2 separate regions of the Homo sapiens genome follow, and region 1 is linked to region 2. The links come from fine-mapping of genetic effects on gene expression. A gene starts in region 2. The other region holds a variant in brackets. All regions are shown on one strand. Distances are from middle to middle. Region 1 overlaps TPST2 (tyrosylprotein sulfotransferase 2). Region 2 holds the start of TPST2 (tyrosylprotein sulfotransferase 2).

Evidence for each region. PIP is the estimated chance that this variant, and not a neighbour inherited with it, causes the effect.
Region 1: its variant is fine-mapped to the expression of TPST2 in whole blood (TOPMed, PIP above 0.99).

Annotation. Positions count from the first base shown.
Region 1 is chr22:26,522,562-26,530,893 of GRCh38, forward strand. It overlaps TPST2 (tyrosylprotein sulfotransferase 2), which reads right to left. Exons shown (of 7, transcript NM_003595.5): 6 at 5,653-5,701; 7 at 1-3,706. The coding sequence ends at 5,660. Among named protein-coding and RNA genes, the nearest start is that of TFIP11-DT, 14 kb to the left of the region's middle. The variant G/A (reference allele first, on the strand shown) is at 3,701.
Region 2 is chr22:26,586,696-26,595,027 of GRCh38, forward strand. It overlaps TPST2 (tyrosylprotein sulfotransferase 2), which reads right to left and starts at 3,437. Exons shown (of 7, transcript NM_003595.5): 1 at 3,358-3,437. It also overlaps a transcript of CRYBA4 not described here. RefSeq lists enhancers at 2,635-3,135, 3,652-3,791, 6,088-6,237 and silencers at 2,982-3,161, 3,172-3,541.

The DNA.
Region 1 (8,332 bases), 64 kb before region 2:
TTCACCCCAGCAATTCTACTTCTCATTTTGCAGAGACTCACTCATACAGTGGCATCAAGAGGTTATATGTGCAGGAGAACGTCCACTGCAGCTTTGCCAGTAGCGATGAAAACTGCTAACAGCCTAAGGGCCTAGCCAAAGTGGAATGCTCAAAAAAGATGGTTTGCTCTAGAACAGGCAGCTGGTAAAAGGAGTGGTGTTAGATCAGCACATGTTCACATCAGAAATGCTCCAGGAGCCAGGTGCGGTGGCTCACGCCTGTAAACCCAACTCTTTGAGAGGCTGAGGAAGGATTGCTTGAGCCCAGGAGTTTGAGACCAGCCTGGGCAACATAGTGATTCCCCTCTTTACAAAAAATAAAAAGTTAGGTAGGTGTCATGGTCCAGCTACTCAGGAGGCTGAGGTGAAAGGACTGCTTGAGCCCAGGAGTTAGAGGTTGCAGTGAGCTGTGTTTGCAGGAGTTAGAGGTTGCAGTGAGCTGTGTTTGCAGGAGTTAGAGGTTGCAGTGAGCTGTGTTTGCAGGAGTTAGAGGTTGCAGTGAGCTGTGTTTGCAGGAGTTAGAGGTTGCAGTGAGCTGTGTTTGTGCCACTGCACTGCAGCCTGAGCAACCAAGCGGGACTCTGTCTCCAAAACAAACAAACAAACAATCCTCCAGAGCAATCTGTTAAATTACATTTTGGAATAACCTATTCAAAATGGTTTTTTCCATACGTCTTTAAGATGATAATATTTATATGTTCAAAAATTTAAAGTCTGGAAGACTATGTACAAACAGAAAATGGTAGCATTACCTTTAGGAGCTATTGAGAGGAAGTACAAATAGAGCCACTTGCCTTCTTACTATCAATTCTGATTGTCCCATGTTTTATAATATATTCATGTAGTACTCTAAACAAAATCTTTTCAGATCAAATCAGGGGAGATGAAATGAGAGTGGATTCTGAGCCTAGTTTTTTTCAGGGAACAAGACCCAGTGCTACCACTTAGGGGCTAGAAACAGAAATTGTATTTATTTTATTTTGTTTTATTTATTTTATTTTTGAGATGGAGTCTCACTCTGTTGCCCAGGCTGGAGTGTACTAGCATGATCTTGGTTCACTGCAACCTCTGCCTCCTGGGTTCAAGCAATTCTCCTGCCTCAGCCTCCCAAGTAGCTGCAACTACAGGCATGCGCCACGACGCCCAGCTAATTTTTGTATTTTTAGTAGATGGGGTTTCGCCACGTTGGCCAGGCTGGTCTGGAACTCCTGACCTCAGCTTATCTGCCCACCTCAGCCTCCCAAAGTGCTGGGATTACAAGCATGAGCCACCGGGCCCGGCCTCTTTATTTTCTTTCAGTGTTTTCCCAGGAAGTTCTCTGAACATCCAGGGTCTTCACAGATGGACTTCTCATAAAAGGTAACTCCTGGAACCAGACATAAATTTTTTTTTTGGGGTGTGTGGTGATGGGATACATAGCTGTCGCCAGATTCTCAAAGGGACAGTGTCACACTTAACAGAGCAAGGAGAGTAATCGGTGATTGGTGAATGATCATTTATCAGAGACTGTGTGTCAAACATTTAAAAAATAAAAAGTAACTGCTGAAGAAATGAACAAAAAGGGTCACACCTTCAAAAAAGCCTAATTTCCATTCCAGAGCAATCTCAAGACAAGGAAAAATAAGAGCTGCTTCACACTGAGGGCTTATCTGGTATCAAGGACCACCGCCAATGTCATCCATTAGCCATCCCCAATAAACCCATGAAGTTCAGCCTGAACAGCATAGAAAGACCTCGTCTCTACAGAAAAAAAAAAATTTAAAAAGTAGCCAGGTGTGGTGGCACATGCCCAGCTACTCAGGAGGCTAAGATGGGAGGATCACCTGACCCTAGGAGACCGAGGCTGCAGTGAGCTATGATCACGCCACTGTACTCTAGCCTGAGTGACAGAGCGAGATTCTGTCTAAACACACACATACACACATACACACCATGAAGTTTTAACTTCCCCATTTTACAGATGAAGAGACAAAGTCTCAAGCCATACAGCCAGTAGGTCAGCCTGACTCCAAAAACCCATGCCCCAAGCCACAATAAGTCACTGCCTTCCAAAAGCCTCATATTATCATGAGATATAAGGCAAGGAGGTATGGGTAAAACACCTTAACCCTTAAAGATACAAACTTATTGTAGGCCCAGTTGGTCCCTCAGCATTTGGGGACTGTGCTATAAGGGTTAACTCAGCAGGCTTGAAGTGTCCAAACCCAGCACATCTCAAAGAAAAAACTGGCCTTAATGGGCTCCTGGGAGATAACCTCTAAGTCCTTGGAATATCCTCCCAAGTAGGGGTGTCTTTGTATACCTCAGGCCTTGGGCCATACCAGGCCAGATAGTTTGTGCTAATAATGTGATTTATGGTGGGGACCTTGGGCCATGCTGTATCATTTTGACCTCTGGAGCAGCTGGTGATTAAGTAACTAAAGTCGGTCATGTGATTGCCCTATGTGACTGACATGCAATAAAAACCTAGACCCCAAGGCTAGGGTGAGCTTTCTGGCTGGTAATATTTAGTACGTGTTGTCACATATCATTGCTGGGAAAATTAAGTGTGTCTGTAAGACTCTACCAGGAGATGACAACTGGAAGCTTGAGGCCGGTCTCTCCCGGACTCTGCCCTATGCACCTTTTTCTTTTGTTGATTTTATTTTGAGATGGAGTCTTGCTCTGTCACCCAGGCTGGAGTATAATGGCACGATCTCCGCTCACTGCAACCTCCGCCTCCCAGGTTCAAGCCTCCTGAGTAGCTGGGATTACAGGTGCACACCACCACGCCCAGGTAATTTTTGTATTTTTAGTAGAGACGGGGTTTCACCATGTTGGCCAGGCTGGTCTCGAACTCCTGACCTCAGGCGATCTGCCTGCCTTGGCCTCCCAAAGTGCTGGGATTACAGGCGTGAGCCACTCCACCCGGCCTCTTTTGCTGATTTTAATGTTTATCCTTTTGCTGTAATAAACCATAACCATAAGGATAATAGCTCTTCTGAATTCTGAGTTCTTCTAGCCAATCATCGATCCTGGGGGTGGCCCTGGGGACCCTGACACAGGAATTCAGCTGTGCCTTACATGCACCTATATTCTCCAGCTTTTTGCTCATCACAAATCTACCTGACAAAATCCAGTATGGAAAGAAAAAAAAAACCCTATTCATTCAGTAAAGTAAGGCACAAACAAATGAGCCTCTGTTCACTTTATTCAAAGAGTATTTTTTTCCTCTGTGAAACTAGGTAGAACTGAGGAGGAATCAAAGAAAGCCTCATATATTAAACTCTTAAATAGATTCTTTGAATTCAAAGTAAGGGTCAATAGGAGAGGCACAGGTTGTGGGCCTTGTCCCAGCAAACAAAGCCACCAAGGCAGTCCTGCAAATTAAGGAGGATGGCAAATCTGTCTCTTAAAAAAAAGTTCTTGAGGGGAAAAATATAAAATACCTAAGTTTCAAAAGCCGGACTACTTCCATACCCTTCATTCTCTACCCTGGAGTGTCCAGAGATAGAGAGTTTCAAGGTACGTTTTCAATGATTCAGCTTTTGCAAACATATGCAAATACATTCCTCATCAGCAGTCCTGTTTTGGCGATTAATAGCAAGCAATATGCTTGGATTAGAGGTCCGATTTCCACTTAAATGCATTTTCTTCTCTTCTTGGCAATGAAGTCATTTGC[G/A]GAGATCTGAAAGTGGGGAAGACTGTGTTAGGCTCAGAGTAACAATTCTGAAATAGATCATTTATATTTATACATGTGATTGCAGAACATACTGTCTTCATCCATTCGCATAAGCATGTAATGTTTTAAGAATGCATCCCAGATGGCCAGAGAGAGTTTAAATTTAAAAACGTTTCCTGGGTTCTTCCCCACATCTCATCTTGCATCCACTTGACCTCAAATATACACTTTTCTTATGGACACAGAGCAAATGACAGTGATTATGTGATAAATACTGATGAATTCTTGGAGGCAAGAGAAGGACTCATGTTTGTTCAAGGCCAACTCTGTACCCAGGATTCAGCTAAAGCACCTCTATATGGTATCTCATTTAAACAGTAAAACAAGTAACAAATCTGCTTTTGTCAATGAGAAGGTCCAGGATTCTACTAATGATCTGCAGAAAGGCAGCGAGGGAACAGTTAGTGAGGAACAGGGAGGAAAGCTGTTTTTCATGAGAGGGTTCTTTTCTTTGGAATAGAACTATGGGATCTTGGGTAGGTGTGGTGGCTCATGCCTGTAATCCCAGCACTTTGGGAGGCTGAGGTGGGCAGATCACTTGAGGCCAGGAGTTTGAGACCAGCCTGGCCAACATGGTGAAACCCCGTCTCTACTAAAAATACAAAAATTAGCTGGGTGTGGTAGCGCACACTTGTAACCCCAGCTACTTGGAAGGCTGAGGCACGAGAGTCACTTGAACCCCAGAAGGTGGAGATTGCTGTGAGCTGAGATCGTGCCACTGCACTCCAGCCTGGGGAACAGGGTGAGACTCTGTCTCAAAAACAAAAACTCTGGGATCTTAGTGCAACTCAAGATGGGAACCCTAATAATGACAGAGTCCTTGCAGGTTGGAGCAAAGTAAATTGAAAGAAAAACTAAAACATATGCTGATTGTTTAAAAATAGATACAGAGACTAAAAATAAGAGTCCAAGCTGGAAGGTGTTTCCATGTAAAATAACCTCTCTTGAGGTTTCCTTTAACCTGATCATAGAGGCTGGGGGACAGAAGGAAGTGAGCTCACTCATGCAGCCTTAACTCCAGTGCCCAAGTCCACAGCGAGGGCCCAGCACTTCACGGTTTCCAAGCACTCCCACCTGGGCCAGCTCACGCCATCTCATGGCCAACCTCAGAGGTGGGCAATGATGAATCCCCATTCTCCAGATGAAGAAAACAGGGGCTGAAGGGAGTTAAACCTGGAGATCTTAAATCTTTGAATTACCAAGTTCAAAAAAATCCCTTTCCCCACCCCTTAGTAGAATATGGATGGATAAATGTGCACTTAAAATCATTCACTAAAAGCAAACCTGGGAGGAATTCTGTCCCTTGGTGGCTGTGTAGCCTTGGGCAAGTCAAAGCCCTTCCTTCTCTGTGCTTTGGTTTTCTCTTCTGTAAAATGGAATGATCATGTCATCCGCCTCCCAAGGATGCTGAGGGTTAAATGAGTAACACAGGACCAGTACCTGGCCCAACGGCCATGGGGGTTATTCTTAGAACAGAACGACTTGTGACTGTTATTAGAACATTAATTGCTCTGGCCCAACGCTGATGCTGTTTTTAGAAGCCAGACTGGCAGACAGCATTCTGTGCAAAAATGGTTCCAGAATCTCCCCCTCCCCCATCATAGTGGTGCTTCCTGCCCTGTCCCCAGTGTCAGACAAACCTTTTTCTGGTTGGTTCAGCGTTAATCCCTCTCCCTGTCCTTGATCCAGAGCTAGAAAACTAAGCCTTGATTCTATAAATAGCACCCCCAGTCTGTCACCATGGAAACCTCTGATGGGGCTGGGTCAGCCCACCCTAGTGGACATGTCTACCCCAGGGAGGCTCTGGAAGGACAGAAAAGTGGCTTTTCAGAAAAGTGGCTCCGGGGCCACCCAGAAGCAGCGGGAACCCCCAGTGAAGTCCACAGGCTTACCTGGAAATCACGAGCTTCCTAAGTGGGAGGAGGTGCTGTTCTGGTTCACCTGGAGAAAGACAATACACAGAAGAAGGGGTCACGGCCAGGTGAGGGATGCCTTGCTGTATTGAGGGTCACCCCTCAGCATCACTGAGTCATGCACATGCTTATTCACGTAGTATTTACTGTACATCTACTATGTGCCAGGTGCTGGGATAGCGTGGTGAGCGGGACAGACCCAAACCTAGGATCACGGAACTTACGTTCGAGTTGAAGAAAAAGCCTACTGAACACGCACAGATGCAAGAAAATGTCAAACTTGGGCAATATGACAGGCTGCTATGAGTGATCAGTATCTGTGCTACTTCAAAAACGGTGGCCAGGAAAGGACTCTACAAGATGGCATTTCAGCTGTGGTATAATAATAAATATTTGTTCATTGTCCCCAGTTCCTGGCACATAGCTCCCCAAACTCTTGGAATCTCTGAAGGAATAAGGGTATCTTGGCCGGGCGCCATGGCTCATGGCTGTAATCCCAGCGCTTTGGGAGGCCGAGGAGGGTGGATCACCTGAGGTCAGGAGTTTGAGACCAGCCTGGCCAACATGGCAAAACTCTGTCTCTACTAAAATACAAAAATTAGCCGGGTGTGGTGGCGGGCACCTGTAATCCTAGCTACTCAGGAGGCTGAGGCAGGAGAATCGCTTGAACCCGGGAGGCAGAGGTTGCAGTGAGCCAAGATCATGCCACTGCACTCCAGCCTGGGTGACAGAGGGAGACTAGGTATCAAAAAAACAAAAACAAAAACAAAAAAAAAACAAAACGTATCTTTTGCATGCTAATGACATGACTAATGGCTGGGGGTCCCTAGATAGCTTCAGGATTAGGGGAAGGGGTCTCAGAAAGACCAAGGCATGATTAGAGGGTTGGAACTTTTTTTGTTGTTTGAGACGGAGTCTCACTGTGTTGCCCAGGCTGGATGGAGTGCGGTGGTGCAATCTTGGTTCACTGCAACCTCCGCGTCCTGAGCTCAAGCAATTCTCCTGCCTCAGCCTTCCAAGTAGCTGGGACTACAGACGTGTGCCACCACGAATGGCTAATATTTTTTGTATTTTTAGTAGAGACAGGGTTTCACCATGTTGGCCCGGCTGGTTTTGAACTGCTGACCTCAAGTGATCTGCCTGCCTCAGCCTCCCAAAGTGCTAGGATTACAGGCATGAGCCACCACACCCAGCCAGAAGGTTGGAACTTTAAGCCCCACCTGCCTTCTCCCCTCCCTGACCTCCTGGGAGGGGAGAGGGGAGAGGGTCTAGGGGCTAGGAGCTGGAGATTGGGCAATCACCCATGACCCATGATTTAATCAGTCATGCCTCTATGATGAAATCTCTAAATGACAGAATTTGGAAAGCTTCCTGGTTGGTAAACACATTGAGAGGCTGGGAGGGTGTCATGCCGGGAAAGGGCATGGATGTTCTGTGACCCATCCCCCATACCTCACCCTACGCTTCTTGCATTTGACTGTACCTGAGTTGTATTCTTTTTTATGAGACAGGGTCTCACTCTGCCACCCAGGCCAGAGTGCAGTGGCACGAACATGTGCCACATGTGCCATACCCAGCTAAGGCTTTCTCTTTTTTGTAGGGAGATGGGGTCTCACTGTGTTGGCCTTGAATTTAAAAAAAAAAAATTAATGCGATCTGAGAGCTAGGGACCATGGCTTTTGAGCATTTCCTGGTTGTTTGGGGAGAGGTCCCACTCCCTTTGTGGGAATCAGAGATCTATCTTTTGCTGACGTCAAGAAAGTAGCCAGAATTAGTGAGCACTAATTTAGTATTTGTTTTAACCAAAAAGATGATGTAGGCAGAACAACACAGTGGGGATGAGGAGAATTATCCACAAACTGAAACTTCTCATTTTTGCACGTTGCCTTCGTTTTTGTTGTTGTTGTTGCTGCTGTTGTTTTTAAGAGACAGGGGCTCCAGCGATCCTCCCACCTCAGCCTCCTGAGAACCTGGGACTGCAGGCATGCCACTGCACCCAACTCCTGCGTGTTGCCTTTTTTTGTCCACCTGAATATGCATTTTTACATTAGTTGCAATTGTATAGTATGAGCTGCTTTGTTTTGCTTTCTTACTATTTTTTCATCATTTGGGTTTCACTAGCACCATTTTGGATGGCTACAGATATTCTGTGGAGTGCATGTACCACCGTTTACTGACTGCTTACCTAAGAATGGTTCCAATTTTTGCAGTATTTTAAATGACATCACATCCTGATTCTGCCTCTCTTCTGTTGGGTACTGAAGCTCTACTGAATCATTCCCTTAGAATTCACTTCTAAAAAATGGAATCATGCTTGAACCCGGGAGGTGGAGGTTGCAGTGGGCTGAGATGGCGCCACTGCACTCCAGCCTGGGTGACACAGTGAAACCCCATCTCAAAAAAAAAAAGGAATCAGCAGGAGCAGGTGGAAGGGTTCAGATCTTTTGAAGACTCTTGAACAACAAGGCTAAAAGTGTTTTACAAAAGGGTTGGGGTCAGGAGCAGTGGCTCACGCCTGTAATCCCAGCATTTTGGGAGGCCGAGGTGGGTGGATCACTTGAGGTCAGGAGTTCGAGACCAGCCTGGCCAACATGGCGAAACCCCTTTCTACTAAAAATACAAAAATTAGCCAGGCGTGGTGGCCGGTGCCTGTAATCCC
Region 2 (8,332 bases):
TGAACCAAGTTGTCAGGAAACTGGAACACGCAGATAAGTGCTGGTCTAAGTTCCTGAACCAGCAGAGTACAGGTTCAAGCTGGGGTGAACTACCTACCTTCTCAAGGAACTCTTCCTCTGTGAAAACGCTGGGTTCTGACCTGAGTTCTTCCGGTGCAGCCTCTTGCTGAAGCAAAGAGTGTGAAGGAAGAAACACAGGGTCCTAGGGGTGGGGAAGGTGCTGAGAGGAGGGGGAAGATGTCTGTGTGTGCAGAATGTTCACAGATGAAGCGTCTGTAACTCAGGACTGCTCATCTCAGGCCTGGGGGGTGGCCCCTCTTGAAATAAGCAGCAACTCACATAGGACACTCCGGTGGCCACCCAGAGAAGTCACCTTCAGAGTAGCGTGGGGGGTTCCAGATAGGGTGTGGGCAGGACCAGACTTAATTTTGGGGTCAAGGGACAAGTCTTCCCCTTCAGTTATGGTCTAGGAGAGCCATGGAGGGTCTCCCTGGCCTCCACAAAGCCTCAGCTGGCAAGGGGGCTCCAGGCTGGCCCGGGATGGGAAGATCCGAGCAGCTTCCACCTTCCTTTCACCCCCTCCTAATACTGTGTGCCAGCTCCTGGGGTGGGCTCTGTAAGCCACTGGGTCCTACACTGCCTCTCCTTGCTTCGGTATTTTCACAGAGTCTTGCTCTGTCACTTAGACCGGAGTGCAGTGGTGTGATTGATCTTGGCTTACTGCAACCTCTGCCTCCTGGGTTCAAGCGATTCCCCTGCCTCAGCCTCCCAAGTAGCTGGGGTTACAGGCACGCACCACCACACCTGGCTAATTTTTGTATTTTTAGTAGAGACGGGGTTTCACCATATTGGATAGGCTGGTCTCGAACTCCTGACCTCAGGTGACCTGCCCACCTTAGCTCCCAAAGTGCTGGGATTACAGGTGTGAGCCTCCGTGCCCGGCCTGAAAATAGTTTACAACTAACACATCAAAGCCAGTGATTTCAAGGGTTATGACTGCTTCAGAGAACACTAAATGTATTTAAGATTATTGGAACCCTCATACACTGGTGGTAGGAATATAAAATGGTACAGCTGTTCTGGAAAAATAGTCTGGCAGGTCCTCAACAGGTTAAACCTGGGTGCAGTGGCTCACACCTATAATCCCAGCACTTTGGGAGCCTGAGGTAGGAGGATCGCTTGAGACCAGGAGTTCAAGACCAGCCTGGGCAACATAGTGGGACCCCTATCTCTACAAAATAAATAAATAATAAAATAAATTAAAAAAATATTTAAAGGTGAAACCTAAAGTTACCTTACGACCCAATCATTCCACTCCTAGAAATATACCTGAGAGAACTGAAAATGTATGTCCAAAGACCTGTACATGAATGTTCATAGCAGTATTATTCATAATAGTCAAAAGTTAGAAACAACCCAAACATCCATCAGCTGACAAATGGATAGAATGTGGTATATCCACATAATAGAATATTATGCAGCCATAAAAAGGAACGAAGTACTTAAAAAAAAAAAAAGGAATGAAGTACTGATACAGGCTGCAAGGGGCTGAACCTTAGAAACATTCTCTGAAGTGAAAAGCATCAGATACCAAAGGCCACATAGTATATGACTGCATTTATATGAAATGTCCAGCACAGGCAAATTCATAGAGAATTTGAGAGTCAGTAAGTGGTTGCCAAGGGATAGGGGAAGAAAGGATTGGGGAGTGACCATGAAACAGCCTTTCTTTTGGGCATGATAAAAATGTTCTAAAATTAGACAGTGGTGATGACTATGCAACTCTGAACATCCTAAAAATTACGGAAACATATACTTTAAAAGGGTGAATTGTACGGCATGTGAACTGTATCTCAACAAAGCTGTTATAAAAAAAGTTTGCATGAGATTTTTAAAAATCAGGTGATACAAAGATGTATATTAAGTAAACAACAGTACAATTGGGGTTCAGTGGGGTGGGGGGATTCAGAAATGACCCAACAGTTCCTTTAGGACAATGAAATAAACCCAGCTTTACAGTTATGGAAACTGAGACTAGATCGGAAGGAAAATGCGTCGCCCGGGCCACATCACTACTAAATCCGGTGTGTCACAGATCTGTTCAAATCCAGAAGCCTACCCTCGCCAGCAGACCACCCTGCTGAGATGAAAGGGTTATCACATGGAGGCTAGGGAGAGGTGTCCACCCACAGCCCAGTCTGGCAGACAGACATGCAAGGGAATGTCTGTTGGGAAGTGAGAAAAAGGGCTGGCTAACTCTGTGGGGTTCAAAACAGGAAGCACCCAACAATACCAGGAGAATGCCAGGGAAGGCTTCCCGGAGGAGGTGCTGCTTGAGGGGGCTTCTGTAGGATAAGTAGGAGTTCAACAGCCCGCCTCCTCAACATCCCCAAGGACATTAAGTCAGGAGGCCTGTGAGTGAGTTTCAGCTCTGCCACATCCTAGCTGTGAATCCTAGGGTCACGGGCAGGTGACCTCTCCAAGCCTCAGTCTCCCCATCTGTAAAAGGGGAAGGGGGCAAGAGGTTAGGCACGGTTCTTTCTAATGACTCTGCTGAGGTGGATGGTTCCTTCCCTAGGGAACGGGCCTTTGAGTGGGAATGCCAGACCTCGACCTCTGTCCCATCTAACAACGACTCTGCCAGGTCAGGCGTGCTCAGCCTCTGAGCCCATGCTCCCAGTCCCCTGCTACCAGTCCCAGTCCCGGCTTTCCGGGCACCTCCCATCCAGCTCACACCGAGAAGCGGAGTTTACGGAGGGAGGTTGGGGGTTGGGGTGGGATCCTCGGGTCAAATTCCTCTCCACTCCTCACCAGTGACCTCCAAGTTCACTAGGGCTCCCCAACCCAGTGCTCCCAGCGCCCACCTCCCCAGCCGACGATTTCCGCCCCCAACGCCTCCACTTCTGACGCTCCTCGCAACTCCACGGCTGCTGCAAGTTAACTTCCACGCGCCCTGGCGCCCGCCTGGGGGTCCCCGCGCGCCTGGGCGAGGTTGGGGACTCCGGAGGCGGGGACGCGCCGCCCTCCCCCCCAGTCCCCCCGCCAACAGACGCTGAGCGTCTCCCAGGCGCTGGGTCCGAAGCGGGAAGCGTGGTAACGGGGGCCCGGTGGATGCCGCACCCCGCGGAAAGCGCTCGGGACGCCGAGCGGGTGCGGATCCCAGAACCGCGCGCCCGCGCCGCCTGCCTGCCTCCCAGATCCCAGCTCCCAGCCCCGGAGCCCGAGCAGTCGCGCCGGGCCCGGAGGCAGCCGCCAGGACGGAGGGCTGCCAGGCGCCCGAGGCCGACCCGCACGGCCCCCAGCCCGCGCCCCCGGTTGCAACCCGAGGCCACCCCCTGCCGCCCCAGGGCCACCTACCGTGGCGAGACGCGGCGAGGCAGCCCCACGCACCCAGCGACTCCCGGCTCTCCAGCCGCCCCAGCCGGGGAAGGGGGAGGTGCCCGCGCGGGGGCGGGGCCGCGGCGACGTGACGTACGGGGGCGGGCCCGATACGCGGCCCCGCCCCGCCCCGCCCCATCCCCTCCACTGCGCCTCGGGACCGCGAGGTGAGCAGAGGCTGGTCGGGAAGTTTCCCGGAGGCTCGCCCCGGGAACCCCGCCCCGCCGCCCTGGAAGCCCCTGTCTGCTCGCTGGCTTACCCCTAGGACGGGCAGCTCACCACTTCTCCCGGTCAGTTCTGTTTAAGAGAAGTTCCTTTCTGCCTGTAAGCAATGAAGTGGAATGATCACCAAAAAGTGGTGTAAGAAAAGAAAAGTAGACCCGCAGCGGGGTGTATTCGTGCTACTGTTTGTGTAAAACACAGAAAAAAGAAAGGGGTGGTCTGATGTATAGTCATACACACCAGTGGTTTTGGAGGGAGTTTTTGTGGATATACCACATTCTCTCCATTTATCAGGGATTTTGCCCTGACATCCCTCCACCACCACGACATTTGGCAATCTCTGAAGACATTTTTGGTTGTCATAACTGGGGAAGTGGAGAGGCGATACTGGCATCTAGTGAGTAGAGGCCTGGAATGCTGCTAAACATTCTGCGGTGCATAGGACACCCTTTCCACCCCCAGCCCTGCCACTACCCCCCCAAAAAAAACCCTGCAAAAAATGCCGAATAGCGTAAAGGTTGTGAAGCCCTGATATACACAAATGAAACAAAACTCCTGACTGATAAATCTTAGCACAGTCTAAGTTCTATAACCTTTCAGTGCTTCTGCTTCTTCATGTGTAAAATTGGAAAAATAATAGAGCTATCTATGCATCGTATGCTTGTGCATTGAATACCTGAAGAAAAGGTAGGGTAGGCATGCAGGCTTACTTTTCATTGTGAACTTTGGTTCTTTGTTCTCTTTTAACTTTCTATTTGCCATATGTATATATTATCTGTTTAAAATAAATTTCTGGGTCAGGTGCATGGCTCACACCTGTGATTCTAGCACTTTGGGAGGCGAGGCGGGCGGATCACTTGAGGCTAGGAGTTCAAGACCAGCCTGGCCAAAATGGTGAAACCTCGTTTCTAATAAAAATACGAAAATGACTTTGGGAGGCCAAGGTGGGTGGATCACATGAGGTCAGGAGTTCGAGACCAGCCAGGCCAACATGGCGAAACCCTGTCTCTACTAAAAATACAAAAATTAGCCGGGTGTGGTGGTACATGCCTGTAGTCCCAGCTACTCAGGAGGCTGAGACAGGAGAATCGCTTGAACCTGGGAGGCAAGGGTTGCAGTGAGCTGAGATTGCACTGCACTCCAGCCTGGGCAACAAGTGAGACTCTGTCTCAAAAAAAAAAAAAAAAATGCAATCCCAGCACTTTGGGAGGCCGATGCGGGTGGATCACCAGGTCAGGAATCCAAGACCAGCCTGACCAATATGGTGAAACCCTGTTTCTACTAAAAATACAAAAATTAGCTGGGCATGGTGGTGCATGCCTGTAGTCCCAGCTACTCAGGAGGCTGAGGCAGAAGAATCGCTTGAACCCAGGAGGTGGAGGTTGCAGTGAGCCAAGATCGCACCACTGCACTCCCACCTGGGCGACAGAGTGAGACTCCGTCTCAAAAAAAAAAAAAAAAAATGAGCAGGGCATGGTGCTGCTCACCTGTAATTCCCCCTACTTGGGAGGCTGAGGCACGAGAATTGCTTGAACCCAGGAGGCAGAGGTTACAGTGAGTGTAGATCGCACCACTGCACTCCATCCTGGGTGAGTACACACACACACACACACACACACACACACACACACACAGAAACTAGGGCACACAGATATTAAGTAATTTGCCCATGGCCAGCCACATGTTCATTCATTGGTCATTCATTAATTCATTCATGTGTCCAATAAATAGTTAGTGCTTGCCTTATGGAAAATGCTGGGACTGATAAAGCTGCCTCCATGGAGCCAGCCATTACTGGTCTGGAAACAATACAACAACATTACATAGTGTTTATTGCGTGCATGTTAGAGACTTCATATGACTGATTTGATAGACACATAGATTAAACACCAGCAGGGTGTTTTATAATGTCCTTTTGTGGATGAAAAAAATGGAGTTCAGAGGAAGAGGTGTGAATGGGGGCATTTGTTTAATAACATTCTAGCAATGGCATTTCCTGAGCTCTCTATGCTAGGCACAGATTCAGCAGCTAACAGGGGGACAAAGGTCCAAGTTGGGGAAGCTAGATCCTTCAACAAGCCTTCACAGTAAAGTGAGCACCTGTAACTGATGAGGCAGGAGCAGCAGAGATTAACCTGGTCCAGGGAGGGAGGGCCAGGCGTGTGTATACATGCCAGAGGCATGGGTGGGGATCCTTGGAAGAGTGCACTGGTCACAGAATCTAGCAGGTGCAAAGGCCTAGCAGGAAGGAAGCGAGCCTGGGGCCTTGCATGAAGTGCAGAGTGGACAGGATGTGGTGGAGGTGAGAGAAGAGATCAGAGGTGTCTGCAGGGCTGGATGCTGCAGAGCTTTGTGGGCTGTGGGAAGGAGTCGGGGCTTTTCTCTTGCAGTGATGGAGAGACAGGGAAGGTGTTCAACAGGGGAAGGGCATGGGGAGCCTGACTTTCTGCAAAGATCCCTCTGGTGCTGTGTGAAGAAGAAACAGGCAGAAACTGGTTTGGAGGGTGTTGAAATAATTCAGGAACCCAGAGAGGGGATGTGGGCATGGAGGGGGTGTTTTGGTTCCGGAGAGGTTTGGAAGACAGAATTGGCAGATCTCAGTTGAGAGGCTAAGGAGGAGGATCAGAATGATCGTCTTGTTGTCTAGGTTGGGACTTCTCTCAGTACCCCTAGCTCAGTGAACCTTTCCAGGTCTCAATCTGTCTGTCACCTCCTTGAGGAAGGCTAATTGCCCCTCAGGACATCGTGGTGGACCAGACACCAGACTGTGCAGCCCAGGAATTTGATGTGACTTTGAAGGCAGACAAAATAATTCATTCCTCCTGTCTGCATCTTCAGCCGGGAACACCTAGAGCAGATACCTCTTCTGTCTTCCTCCCCAACCTATCTTCCCAGCATCTAGGCAAAACCCAGTACTTAAGAGGTTTTATCAAAAGCAGGAAGAATATTTATCAAAAGCAGGAAGAATAGATGTAGCATAATACACATTGATCCAAAAATTCTTTCCAGCTCTGACATTCAAGAGGATGAGGTTGATGTTATGTCAATAATTACACTTTAGGCCAGGCTCAATGGCTCACTCCTGTAATTCCAGCACTGTGGGAGGCTGAAGAGGGAGGATAGCTTGAACCCAGGAGATTGAGACCAGCCTGGGCAACATGGTGAGACCTTGTCTCTACTTTTTTTTTTTAATTAAAATTTTTTTAAAAACCATTTTATTTATTTTTATTTTATTTATTTATTTCTTTGAGACAGAGTCTCACTCTGTTGCCCAGGCTGGAGTACAGTGGTGTGATCTCGGCTCACTGCAACCTCCGCCTCCTGGGTCCAAGCAGTCCTCCTGCTTCAGCCTATTGAGTATCTGGGATTACAAGCATGCGCCAATATGCCTGGCTAATTTTTGTATTTGGAGTAGAGATGGGATTTCTTCATGTTGGCCAGGCTCGTCTCCAACTCCTGACCTCAAGTGATCCACCTGTCTTGGACTCCCAAAGTGCTGGGATTACAAGTGTGAGCCACCATGCCCAACCACAGAAAACACTTTATTCAGGTGCTTGCTATGTGCTAAACACCTTATAATTATTATATTCAAGCTGATCATTTACCCTCTCCAAGCTTTTGGTGTTTTATTATCATTACTCCCATTTTACAGATGTGGAAACAGAGGCTCCAGCAGGTAATTTGATTTGGCCAAGGATAATAGCTGGTAATTGTCAGAGCTGGAATGCAAACTCAGGTCTCTCTCACCCTTTCTAGTACACTGATAGAAGGCAGTGGCTCGGCAGTGGGCAGGAAGTAAAAGTAAGTGGGCAGGTTTTCTTCTCCTGCTGGAAGGGTGTAGTATTATTGTTCCTAGCTGGGGATCCAGGCTTCACAAAGCATTCGTTGATCCTAAGTATCTGACCCAGGCTATTGGCTGTCGTGGCAGTTTGGCTCTAAGAAGGCTCATCTCTTTAGAACCTCTGCAGGGCACCCTGGAACCATGTCTTTTCCCCAGAGCCCAGTTGCTGTGTATTTATCAGCATCTCATGCTGGCACAAAAGCATTCAATGCCTCTGGGTGATCCTCCTGCCTCCACCCCACATATACACACTGCCGGCGTTGGGCTTATGCTCCAATGTCTAAAAGATTACGGGTTGCCTCTTGTCGATGAGAATGAGAGCCGCTCTCTCATAATCAAGATGCTTTGCCTTTCCAAAGGCCTGAGACTCAAAGATTCACAAGCTGGGATCTATCTAGCTTTGAAACAATATGAAGTCCCCAGTTTCCTCAGGCATTGTATTTTAAAGCCAGTGCTTAGGGACACTCCTGCTTGAACCCGGGAGGTGGAGGTTGTGGTGGGCTGAGATTGCGCCACTGCACTCCAGCCTGGGCGATAGAGTGAGACTCTAGCTAAAACAAAAAACAAAAAACAAAAACCAAAACAAACAAACAAAAAGCCAGCATTTAGAGCCAAACCCATGCAGTCAAAATTGCCTTGGAGAAGCCCCCGAAAAGGCTGAAGGCAACATAGCCCCTTGGAAGTCCAGCTTCACTGGTTTCCGTCAATATTAAACTTGGACTCATCATGATTTCTGGGGTTGAGCACCTGATGAAATGAAACCTTAGTTTTAGTTTGAAGGCAAAAGTGTGGCTTATCTTTAAGCTCTGAAATTCTGCTCCAGGTGGTGAGATGCTCATGTTTTGAGAGATATGTTGAAACTAGGACCCATGGAAGGAACACCAGGTTTAT